3 linked regions of the Homo sapiens genome follow. The protein of the gene in region 3 interacts with the protein of the main gene of each other region in a biochemical or structural test. Each region holds a gene or a part of one and is shown on either strand. Other genes may lie near its edges.

Region 1 (3,500 bases), on a different chromosome or scaffold from region 3:
ACTCCAGCCTGGTGATAGAGTGTGACTCCATCTCAAAAAAAAGTAATAACTACTAATCCACTGATAGCATCTGTATGCCAGGCCCCAGGCCAAGCACTTTGTAAGTCACTTCAGTTTACTTCCTATAGCACCACTATGAGACGGCTATTACTAACCCCATCTTACAAATAAAGAATCTGTCTTAGAGGTAATGTTACTTGTCCACAGCCCCGCACAACCAAAACTAGGATGGAAACTAAGAACTGCCTGACTCCAAAGTCCTCCTAATCCCCAGGCTTTTCCCACATCCAGACAGGACAGGTGGAGAGGTAGGCCAAGCCAAGACGGCTTGGGGGCAGAATGGGAGAAGGAGCTCAAAAAGAAAATGGGAGAGAAAGTAGCTGGGAAGCTAAGAGTGCTGAGGAAAATTCCAGCTGGGGGTGGGACCACGCTACAAACTCGGGACTCTAAAGATTCTTACCTTCCTTGAAGACTCCATTGACAGAAAAACACAGCAATGTGCTCTGAAAGAGAAGCAGCATCAGGTACAATGTACACTTCTCAGAGCCTGAGTGCCCCCCCTTGCCTATTAAATGCCACCCCCACCCCAATTCTAGGCTTCTGTCAGGCGCAAGCAGGAGCTTACTGTCTGGGCGCTTATGTCTACCACGAAGGAATTGACGTCGTGCTGGGTTTTGGGCAACTCATTGAGGAAGGCAACAACGTTGAGACGCGTGTGCTTCAGCAGCCGGAACCGCAAGGCTGTGGGTAGAGGAGAAAGCTCAGTGGTGCTGCCACACACTCCTGAGTTCTGACTGATTCCTTCCCATGCCCTTTTCCCATATTTTGTTCGTATCACACACTTACTAGGGTCTTTAAGCTTCTTCACATTTCTGCTATCCTTGAAATACTCGGCTAAGCTGCTTCTGGGGGAATAAAAGGAATGGACGTGGTGTTCAGAGCAGTGCTGCCAGCAGGTGTGCCCTGTATCTGCTGGGAAACCCAGTGGTCCCGGGCAGATTCTGGGATGTGATACTAACCGGGCAGGGTTCTGAGGAATGAAAGGAATGCTCAGGGAACAGCAGGCCCCATCATGGTAGGCATCCAGGAGCCCTTGTCGGTCTCCAGAGTCGTAAATTGCATAGTACCTATGGGAAAAACAAAAAAGAAAGTATGGGCTCTGTGGTCTACAGCCATACAAGGACCCAGTAGCTCCCAAGAGTGAGTTGTGGCCGGGCATGGAAGCTCATGCCTGTAATCCCAGCACTTTGGGAGGCTGAGATGGGTGAATAGCTTGAGCCCAGGAGTTCAAGACCAGCCTGGGCAACATGGCGAAACCCTGTCTCTACTAAAAATACAAAAAAAATGGCTAGGTGCGGTGGCTCACGCCTCTAATCCCAACACTTTGGGAGGAAGAGGCAGGTGGATCATGAGGTCAGGAGTTGGAGACCAGCCTGGCCAACATAGTGAAATCCCATCTGTACGAAAAATACAAAAATTAGCCAGGTGCAGTGGCACACACCTGTAGTCCCAGCTACTGGGGAGGCTGAGGCAGGAGAATCACTTGAACCCTGGGAGGCAGAGGTTGCAGTGAGCCAAGATCACACCATTGCACTCCAGCCTGGGTGACACAGTGAGACACTGTCCAAAAAAAAAAAAAAAAACAAAACAAAAAACAAAACAAAAAGATTGATGTGTGCCTGGGTCTGCCCACCATTCCCCCTCAACCTCGGGGTGGGGAGGGGGGACCCTGGGATACTTACTGTTGCAGGAAGTGCAAGACCAGACTCTTCAAGTTTTCTGTTCCAAAATAGCTTCCCTGAAATCAAACAGGTATTAGGAACATGGAAGCAGTATTCTCTCCACACACAAGTTCTTACTCTGTCCATGCTTCCTACCTTGCAGGGCGGTAACGTCGTGGGGGCTTCAACATCAAAGGCAATTGGTGGGGGTAGCTCATGGCCATCCTGTGGAAAGGAAGTAAAAGTTGACAGTGTAGACTGGGCCCAGTGGCTCACACCTGTGATCCCAGAACTTTGGGAGGCCGAGGCAGGCAGATGGCTTGAGCTCAGGAGTTTGAGACCAGCCTGGCTGGACAACGTGGCAAAACCCATCTCTACCAAAAAAAATACAAAAATTAGCTGGGCATGGTGGTGCGTGCCTGGAGTCCTAGCTACTTGGGAGGCTGAAGTGGGAGGATCACTTGAGCCTGGCAGGCGAAGGTTGCAGTAAGCTACGATTGTGCCACTGCACTCCAGCCTGGATGACAGAGCCAGACCCTGTCTCAAAAAACAAAACAAACAAAAAAGAAAGTTGACAGTTTAAACCAGAGAGAAAAAGGCTGGGTGCATAAGTAGACTGAAGAACTAAGAGAGAAGGGTCAGAAGTCAAGTGTAAACGCATCATGAAAAGTATCCAGGGATCCAGGCTGGGCGCAGTGGCTCACACCTGTAATCCCAGCACACTGGGAGGCCAAGGTGGATGGATTAGTTGAGGTCAGGAGTTCAAGACCATCCTGGCCAACAAGATGAAACCCCCATCTCTACTAAAAATACACAAAGAAATTAGCCGGGCATTGTGGCACATGCCTGTAATCCCAGCTACTCAGGAGGCTGAGGCAGGAGAATCACTTGAACCCAGGAGGCAAACGGTGCAGTGAGTCAAGATTGCACCACTGCACTCTGGGTAACAGAGCAAGACTCCATCCAAAAAAAAAAAAAAAAAGGGCCTGGTGCGAGTGGCTCACGTCTGTAATCCCAGCACTTTGGGAGGCCGAGGTAGGTGGATCACCTGAGGTCAGGAATTCAAGGCCAGCCTGGCGAACATGGTGAAACCCTGTCTCTACTAAAAATACAAAAATTAGCCAGGTGTGGTAGCACATGCCTGTAATCCCAGCTACTTGGGCTCAGGAGGCTGAGGCAGGAGAATCGCTTGAACCTGGGAGGCAGAGGTTGCGGTGAGCTGAAATCATGCTGTTGCACTCCAGCCTGGGCGACGAGTGAAACTCCGTCTCAAATAAAAAAAAAAAAAAGAAAAAGAAAAAGAAAAAGAAACCTATCCAGGAATCCTTGTGAGTGAGAGATGCTGTGCTTGTTAGAATGAAAAAATTATGGACTTACCAGGCGTAGTAACTTGGGAAATCGTTCGCGAATGGCGCTGTCAAGAACGGGACAGAAGTGAGTGATGCTTCAGAGCCACCGTGCCTCCTGGGCTGCTCTAGGAGCAAATATACCAAACCCGAGGGACAGCCCATCCCATCCTGCTCATCCCTCCACTCCCTCCCAGCCTGTGCTCAGGGAAAAATGGCCCCCACTCCCCACCTGACCCGGGGCACCCAGACATGGACTGCCTTGAAGGCTGTCTCTTTTCTCTCTGCCTGACCCTGAGTGTCAAGGAGCAGTACTCCAAGCCCAGGCTTTAAGCCCAGGACCTCTTTCCCCTCCCTGCCCCCCTTACCTTCCACCTACTCACCTGTGCAGCCCCGGGAGGAGGGAATGGGGTGGGAGCCCAGGGGCTCCGCT
Region 2 (3,500 bases), 9.3 Mb from region 3:
TCTGAGGACCAGAATCCATATTCCTCATCAGAAGGGAACTGGGCCTTGTGCAGAAGCACATCCACCAGCTGGAAGTAGACTGGCCGGTACACCTGCTGGTATACAGCCTGCTTCTCTGCCTCAAAGGATAGAATATCATCCTGAGAGAGCCAGGGAAGAGAATTAGCCACCTCACCAGCAGTCATAGAAGCCCATGATCCACCTTCTTCCACCACAGCCCAGTCCTACTGGAGGTCACACAGACACACCTGCAGTGTGTACCAGAAGGTGAGGGTTAGGGAGCTGGTGGTCTCATTGACAGGATAGTGGCCAGGGATGCCTGTGCAGAACATAATCATGTTGACGAGTGCCAGGAAACTCTGCCAGTGCTCTACTTGGTCCAGCAAGGCCCTGGGGAGAGAGTCAGGTCATTCTACCTTTCCAGGGACTTCCAGAACCCCATTTCTTAGAGGGCCCTACTATCCCACCCCAAGCTGCTCCACCCTTTACCGGGAGTGGTTCTCGCCCAGGGCCACAGCGATGCGACAGATGCCATGGGAGGTCTCCATGTCCCCATTCTGCACTGCCTGCCGCAGTTGTTCCTGCAGACCCAGCACCAGCGGGATGAGTTTCAGGAGTGTGTTCACGTACCTAGAGGCATGAGGTGAGAAAATCCATCAGAGCTCTCTGCTCAACCCCACACTGGCTTTAAGAGAAAGGCATAATCTCCTTGTCTTCCATCAAAGCTCCCCTTCCCTTATCAAATCCTAAGCAAAAAAAGGGTCAGGGTCTACATGGCAGATTTGATGTTCCCAATGTTGGGAAGAACCTTAGATCAGGGACCCCCAGAAGAACTCTGAGAAGGACGTATGAGAAGGTCAGCATTATGGGTTGAATTGTGTTCTCCAGTTGGACTGAGAGCTGATTCCGGAATGGGTTAAGATTTTTTTTTTTTTTTTTTTTTTGAGATGGGGTTTTGCTGTGTTACCCAGGCTGGTCTCGAACTCCTGAGCTCAAGAGACTCAGCCTCCTGCTCAGCCTCCAGAGTAGCTGGGATTACAGGTGGAGCCACCACATCCAGCTAGGTTACAACTTTTGGGGAGATTGAGATGAAGTGAATATATTTTGCATGTGGGGATAACATGAAGTTTGGGGCACCAGAGGGCAGACTGTCATGGGTCAAATTAAGTCCCCACAAAAAGATACATTTTTTGATAAATCTTAATCCCCAGTACCTCAAAATGTGATCTTATTTGGAAATAAGATAATTGCAGATGAGGTTATACTGGAGTAGGATGGACCTGAACTCCAATATGACTGGTGTCCTTATAAGAAGATATCTATGTGAAGACAGAGACATACAGGGAGAATGCCACGTGAGGATGAAAGTAGAGAGTGGAGTGATCCAGCTGGAAGCCAGGGAACACTGAAGACCGCCAGCAAACCACAGAGCTAGGAAGAGGCAAGGACGGAGTCTCCTACAGGTTTCAGAGGGAGCACAGCCTTGCCAACACCTTGATTTCAGACTTCTATCCTTCACAATTGTGAGACAGTTAATTTCTGTTTGGCTTTAAAGCCACCTAGTTTGTGGTACTATGTTATGGTAGCCCTAGGAAACTAATACAGTCTGTCAGGGGTGATTGAACAAGAGTGGGATACAGAAGAGTAAACACAGGCTCATAAGCCCTGATTTAAAAAAAAAAAAAAGACTTTGGAAGGCAGCAACAGCTCATGAGAGCATCAATCCCTGCCATCCGCTCCACCCTCTACCACCAAATCCCAACTCTTGAGGAGTGTGGTGGCAGCAGGGAGGAAGAGAAGTAGACAATGAACTCAGAGAGAGCTAAGAGGCAAAACAGACAGGACTTGATGACTGACTGGATATGAGGAAGGAGAAGAATAAAGACACCTCTCAGGTCACTGGCTAAACAACTAAGTAGACGGTGGAGCTATTTACTGAGACCTGTGGGGTGAGTAGCGGGGAACAGTAACACCTTTAATGGGAGGTGGAAGGTGATAAGCTCAGTCTTAGACAAGTTGATTCAGAGACACCTGATAGGTTATGCAGGCAGAAGCATCTAGAAAGAGTTGGATATAAAAGCCTGAAGCCCAGCATAGAGGTTAGAGCAAAAGCCATAGATTTGAGAGTCATCAGCTAACAGCTGGTAATTGAAGTTATGGGAATAGATGAGAATTGCCCAAGGAGAAAGTGTTGAATGAGAAAAAAATAAGAGGGTCCAGATCACAGCCCTGAAACACAATGATCTCTAAAGGAGAAGGACAGACAGCCCAGTATACAAAGGGGACTGAGAGAAGCCTGGCTCAGCCCACTGGATCCCTCTCCAGCACCTTGGTCTGTGGAGATGAGACTAAGCAGAGGAAGCCACACTCTAATAGCGGGGATCAGATGCTTGGGACCCCTCTGTTGTCAATCATAGTGTCACCATAGCAATCTATGTTAGGGAGTTGGGGACTGAGGATCCCAGAGGGAGTTCTATCTGGACTTGCCCCAAGCAGGTTGCTAGGCAGTAGCCTCATATCCTTGGTGGGAGGATGAGAAGGACAAAAAGAGGCAACCAGCCTAGGGACATCGGCCTCCTTCTCCACATCCCCATTCTGGTAGGAAAAGTCACCCATGCCAGGATATCCCCAGCCCAGAGACAGCCCCAGGGGGTGCTGCCTGGAGACAGCCGGGATAGCTTCAGTCTCCTGACCCTGACACGGGCTGCACCACCAGACAATGGGCATTTTCAGGCCAGACTCTGGCACAAAGAGAAGGGGCAGGGCCAAGGCTATGGCCCACAAGCTCCTCAGCAGCTGAGATGGGTGCAGGAGGTAGCGCTCTACTCCCATAGCTCCCCACTGTATTCTAAGACTCCTTCCTCCACCTGCCAAAGTTCATGCAGATGGCAGGGTACTCGGCAAATGTTCTTCATTTGTCTCATCTGAGCCTCAAAATAGGACAAATCAAGGATAATACAGCCTCAAAGAGCTCAGAGTATCATATCACTCAAGGTCATACAACAACTTAGAAGCAGAATCCAGGTTGAAACTGCCCCTTAAACTGCTACAGGTCTGCTTTTCTTTCAGGGCCCAACCAGAATTTCCCCAAAGGATTTATGTACGTCTCAGCCCATATCTCCAGTCCTAACTGATGGGAGCCCCCAAGAGCCTGCCTAATTCACTTTCCCTCCATCCCCAACTCCCAAGGACAAGCTTTTCCAGCATTAAAAACATAGTTCAGGAAAAAAAAATACATTTCAAAGGAGAGAGCCAGGAAGCAGCAGCAGCTGTGGAGGGGCAGGAAAAGGGTGACTTGAGTGCAAGCTCAGCCAAGGGGAGGGCCAATGTCAGGACACCTGGGGAAGGCGTGCCTGGATGACCCAGGAGTCAAAGTCACTGAAGGTGACTTTCACAAGCCAAAGCTGGGAAATTAGACTGGGGAGAGCAAGGGCCAGGCTCGGATTCTGGGCTGGATGCAGCTCACCCATGGGAAGAAGTTCTTGCATAAATTTCCTACC
Region 3 (3,500 bases):
ACAGTATCCAATGGCTTATTGCTGGTACAAAGGAATATGCCCTTCCCTCTTTACAGAATTGTTGTGATGGTAGAACGAGTTAATAGAAATAAAAATTTTATAAGTGGTAAAGCAAAATACATATATATGATATTACTGAGCTCCCTTGAACATAAATTAAAGTTAACTTTAGTAAGTACTGAGGGTGGATTTTTAAAAAAAACTCTTCAAGGGTTGGTCCATCATTTTGAGATTATTAGGAATGAGTTTATATGGGTTTTCATATTAATTTAACAAATACATTATTATTGAGCTTTTACTATACATGGGTACTATTTTAGTCACTAGAGATACAGCAGTGGAAAACACTGAAAAGCAAGTAAGACAATTTTAGACAATAGCAAGTGCTACAAAGACAACACATATTGTGATAAAACTGAAAGCAAAAAGAAAAAAAAACACAAAAAGACAACACAACAGATCTTTTTCTTAATGATGGGAAGCGACTTCTTAGATTGGATGGACAGGCAAGACATCACTGAGGAAGTGACTTTTGAAGACCTCAATAATAGAGACAGTCTTGTATAAAGTTAAAGGAAGAATATTTTAGGCGGAATGTGGCAAGTGCAAAGGCCCTGAAGTAAGAACCACCTAGGTATGTCTGAGGAACAGAAATGAAGCTAGTAAGGTTTGAACACCATGACAGATTGGAAGCCCGGTAAAAGATAAGGTGGGAGTTTGAATTTTAAGTACAGTGGGAAGCCATTGGAGTTTAAATCAGTGGAATACATAAGCAAATTTACGTTTTTAAAGATCAGACCAGTAGGATGCGGCGGCTTACGCCTGTAACCACAGCACTTTGGGAGGGTAAGGCAGGCGGATCACCTGAGGTCAGGAGTTTGAGACTAGCCTGGCCAACATGGTGAAACGCCATCTCTACTACAAATACAAAAATTAGCTGGGCATGGTGGAGGACGCCTGTAATCCCAGCTATTCGGGAGGCTGAGGCAGGAGAATCGCTTGAACCCAGGAGGCAGAGGTTACAGTGAGCTGAGATTATGCCACTGCACTCCAGCCTGGGCGACAGAGCGAGACTCCAACTCAAAAAAAAAATAATAAATAAATCACACTGGCTTTCAGGATGGAAAAATGGATGGTATGGAACAAGAGGAAAAACAAGGAAATCTATTAGAAGTCTGGATTAGGATGGTAGCAGTCAAGAGTGAAAATACCTTTTCTGTTAATTCAGTTCAATATGACAGTGGCTTTTATTTTTTAGTTACCAAAATGGTGCTCAGAATGAATATATACATTAATGTATATAAATATACATGAATTTAAATACATACACTGAATTATTTGTATGATTTTCCTTTCATTAGATTGTTGAAATAATTATGTTCTATTTCTCTTTGTATCTCCACAATGCTTTGTCCATAGTAGTTAGTAAGTGAGATAGGCAACAAAAGCTTTAAGTGGAGGAGGGAGTGTGGGGGGTCTTATTTGTAAGATTTCTGCACTACAGGATAATCAATAAAACACACCTGCCGGCCCACTCGGTCAGGAGGAGGCCACAATGCATCATCCTCTTTGGTAATTTCACTGTCGTCAATTATTCTCTTCAGTTCCTCCATCACGCTTTTATGTACATAAGCCTGAACGCAAGTTAAAAAACAAAATGTATGTTGTATCCTTAAGCAGTGCTTTGACTCAGATAGTGATGGAAGATAAAAATAACTGTTCCTGCAGACTTATTTCTGGCATCTCCTTAAGTGGGAAGACATTCATGCTCAACCTCGGCATGATGCAGGTGAGGGACACGGTCAGAAGTATCCAGTAACTGCACCTCAGTCCCCTATCTAGCTGTTACTACCTCCTGGTACATCCTGTTCACATGGCCCTTCTGCCTGCCCACATACCCAACTCACAACGAAACCCAAAACAGGTCTGTGAGTGCCCCCTGCCATGGTTTGAATGTTTTTGTCTCCTCCAAAAAAATCATACTGAAATTAATCCCCAAAGCAACAGTGTTAAGAGATAGGGCCTTTAGGAGGTGATCAGGCCTTGAGGGCAGAGGCCCCAGGGATAGATTAGTGCTTTAGGAGAGAGCTTAAGGGAACTAGCTGGCCCCTTTCTTGTTCTTTCACCATATGAGGACACAGCATTCATTCCTTCTGGAGGATGCAAAAACAAGGCACAGTTGTGGAAGCAGAGACTGGGCCCTCACTAGACACTGAACTTGCCAGCGCCTTGATCTTGGACTTTCCAGCCTCCAAAATTGTGAGAAATATATTTTTACTGCTTACAAATTACCCAGTCTCAGGCATTTTGTTGCAGCAAAAAAGAGACTGCGACACCCACATGCCCTGGTTATTCTTTTTTTTTTTTTTTTTTGAAACGGAGCCTTGCTCTGTCGCCCAGGCTGGAGTGCAGTGGTGCGATCTCGGCTCATTGCGAACTCTGCCTCCTGGGTTCATGCCATTCTCCTGCCTCAGCCTCCTAAGTAGCTGGGACTACAGGCACCCGCCACCATGCCTGGCTAATTTTTTTGTATTTTCAGTACAGACAGGGCTTCACCGTATTAGCCAGGATGGTCTCGATCTCCTGACCTCGTGATCCGCCCGCCTCGGCCTCCCAAAGTGCTGGGATTACAGGTGTGAGTCACCGCGCCCGGCCAGTTATTCTTAACTAGGTAATACACTCCTGAGGAGCAAAATGTATTTTAAAAGATATGCCTGTGTAAAAAAATAGTGAGGATATTGACATGTGTGAATAAGCATAAAATCAATAGCTAAAATAACAATATGAAAATATATGCTAAGACATTTTCAAAGGTGGCAAAGTGGTTAAAAGGAAAGAGTAGCTTTGATGAAGCCTTAATGATGTAGTAGAAATCACAGAACGGAGAATACAAACTTTACTGGGGCAGGATTGGGAATTCCTGCTGTATCTCTTACTAGCAGGGGTAACTCAGAACAAGCCTCATAATTAATACCTGGGCCTTTATTTTCTTATTTGTAAGGGGGCTATAATACCCTCCCCCATCACATGGGCTTACAATCAGGGTTAAATAAGATGCCACGCCTGACATCTAACATGCATTCAATGATGTCAACTGCTTTCCCATGCTCCCTTTCCCACTCAGATGTAAATTAAATAGCTCTTCATTGTGTACCATGTACACAGGGAATATAGAGCACTTTAAATAGAACATATTTAATTTTATGACAGCACTTGGGAGTGGGAGGTAGCTTTTATTATTCCTGTTTTTACAGGTGAAGAAACAGAGATTTATCAAGTTCAGCCAGGAACTTGCCCAAGGTCACATGGGGTAGTAAGCAGCAGACTCAGGGTTCAAACCAAGGTATGTCAAAGGTTACCAGTAATTGATTCCACAATGTAAAATAAAAAAATCCCAACTAAAAGATGATTTGGGAAATAATCCAGAAGCTGTCTACAGACATGTGTCTCTCTCCCTGTTCTTTATCTTTCAATACTACTAGAAACAATAAAAACAATGC

What was found.
Region 1: the proteins of MAGOH (region 3) and NXF1 form a complex in vitro, tested with the Homo sapiens proteins (one study listed by BioGRID).
Region 2: the proteins of MAGOH (region 3) and IPO13 form a complex in vitro, tested with the Homo sapiens proteins (2 studies listed by BioGRID and IntAct).

What each region holds. Positions count from the first base shown.
Region 1 is NC_000011.10:62,795,441-62,798,940, forward strand, and holds part of NXF1 (nuclear RNA export factor 1), read right to left. Parts: exon of another isoform or gene 3,136-3,500; coding exon 3,099-3,135; intron 1,947-3,098; coding exon 1,878-1,946; intron 1,799-1,877; coding exon 1,743-1,798; intron 1,128-1,742; coding exon 1,020-1,127; intron 906-1,019; coding exon 847-905; intron 742-846; coding exon 626-741; intron 504-625; coding exon 461-503; intron 1-460.
Region 2 is NC_000001.11:43,953,450-43,956,949, reverse strand, and holds part of IPO13 (importin-13), read right to left. Parts: intron 3,488-3,500; exon of another isoform or gene 3,467-3,487; intron 631-3,466; coding exon 490-630; intron 391-489; coding exon 249-390; intron 141-248; coding exon 1-140. UniProt on the Homo sapiens protein: Functions in nuclear protein import as nuclear transport receptor. Serves as receptor for nuclear localization signals (NLS) in cargo substrates.
Region 3 is NC_000001.11:53,232,019-53,235,518, forward strand, and holds part of MAGOH (protein mago nashi homolog), read right to left. Parts: intron 1,635-3,500; coding exon 1,524-1,634; intron 1-1,523. UniProt on the Homo sapiens protein: Required for pre-mRNA splicing as component of the spliceosome. Plays a redundant role with MAGOHB as core component of the exon junction complex (EJC) and in the nonsense-mediated decay (NMD) pathway.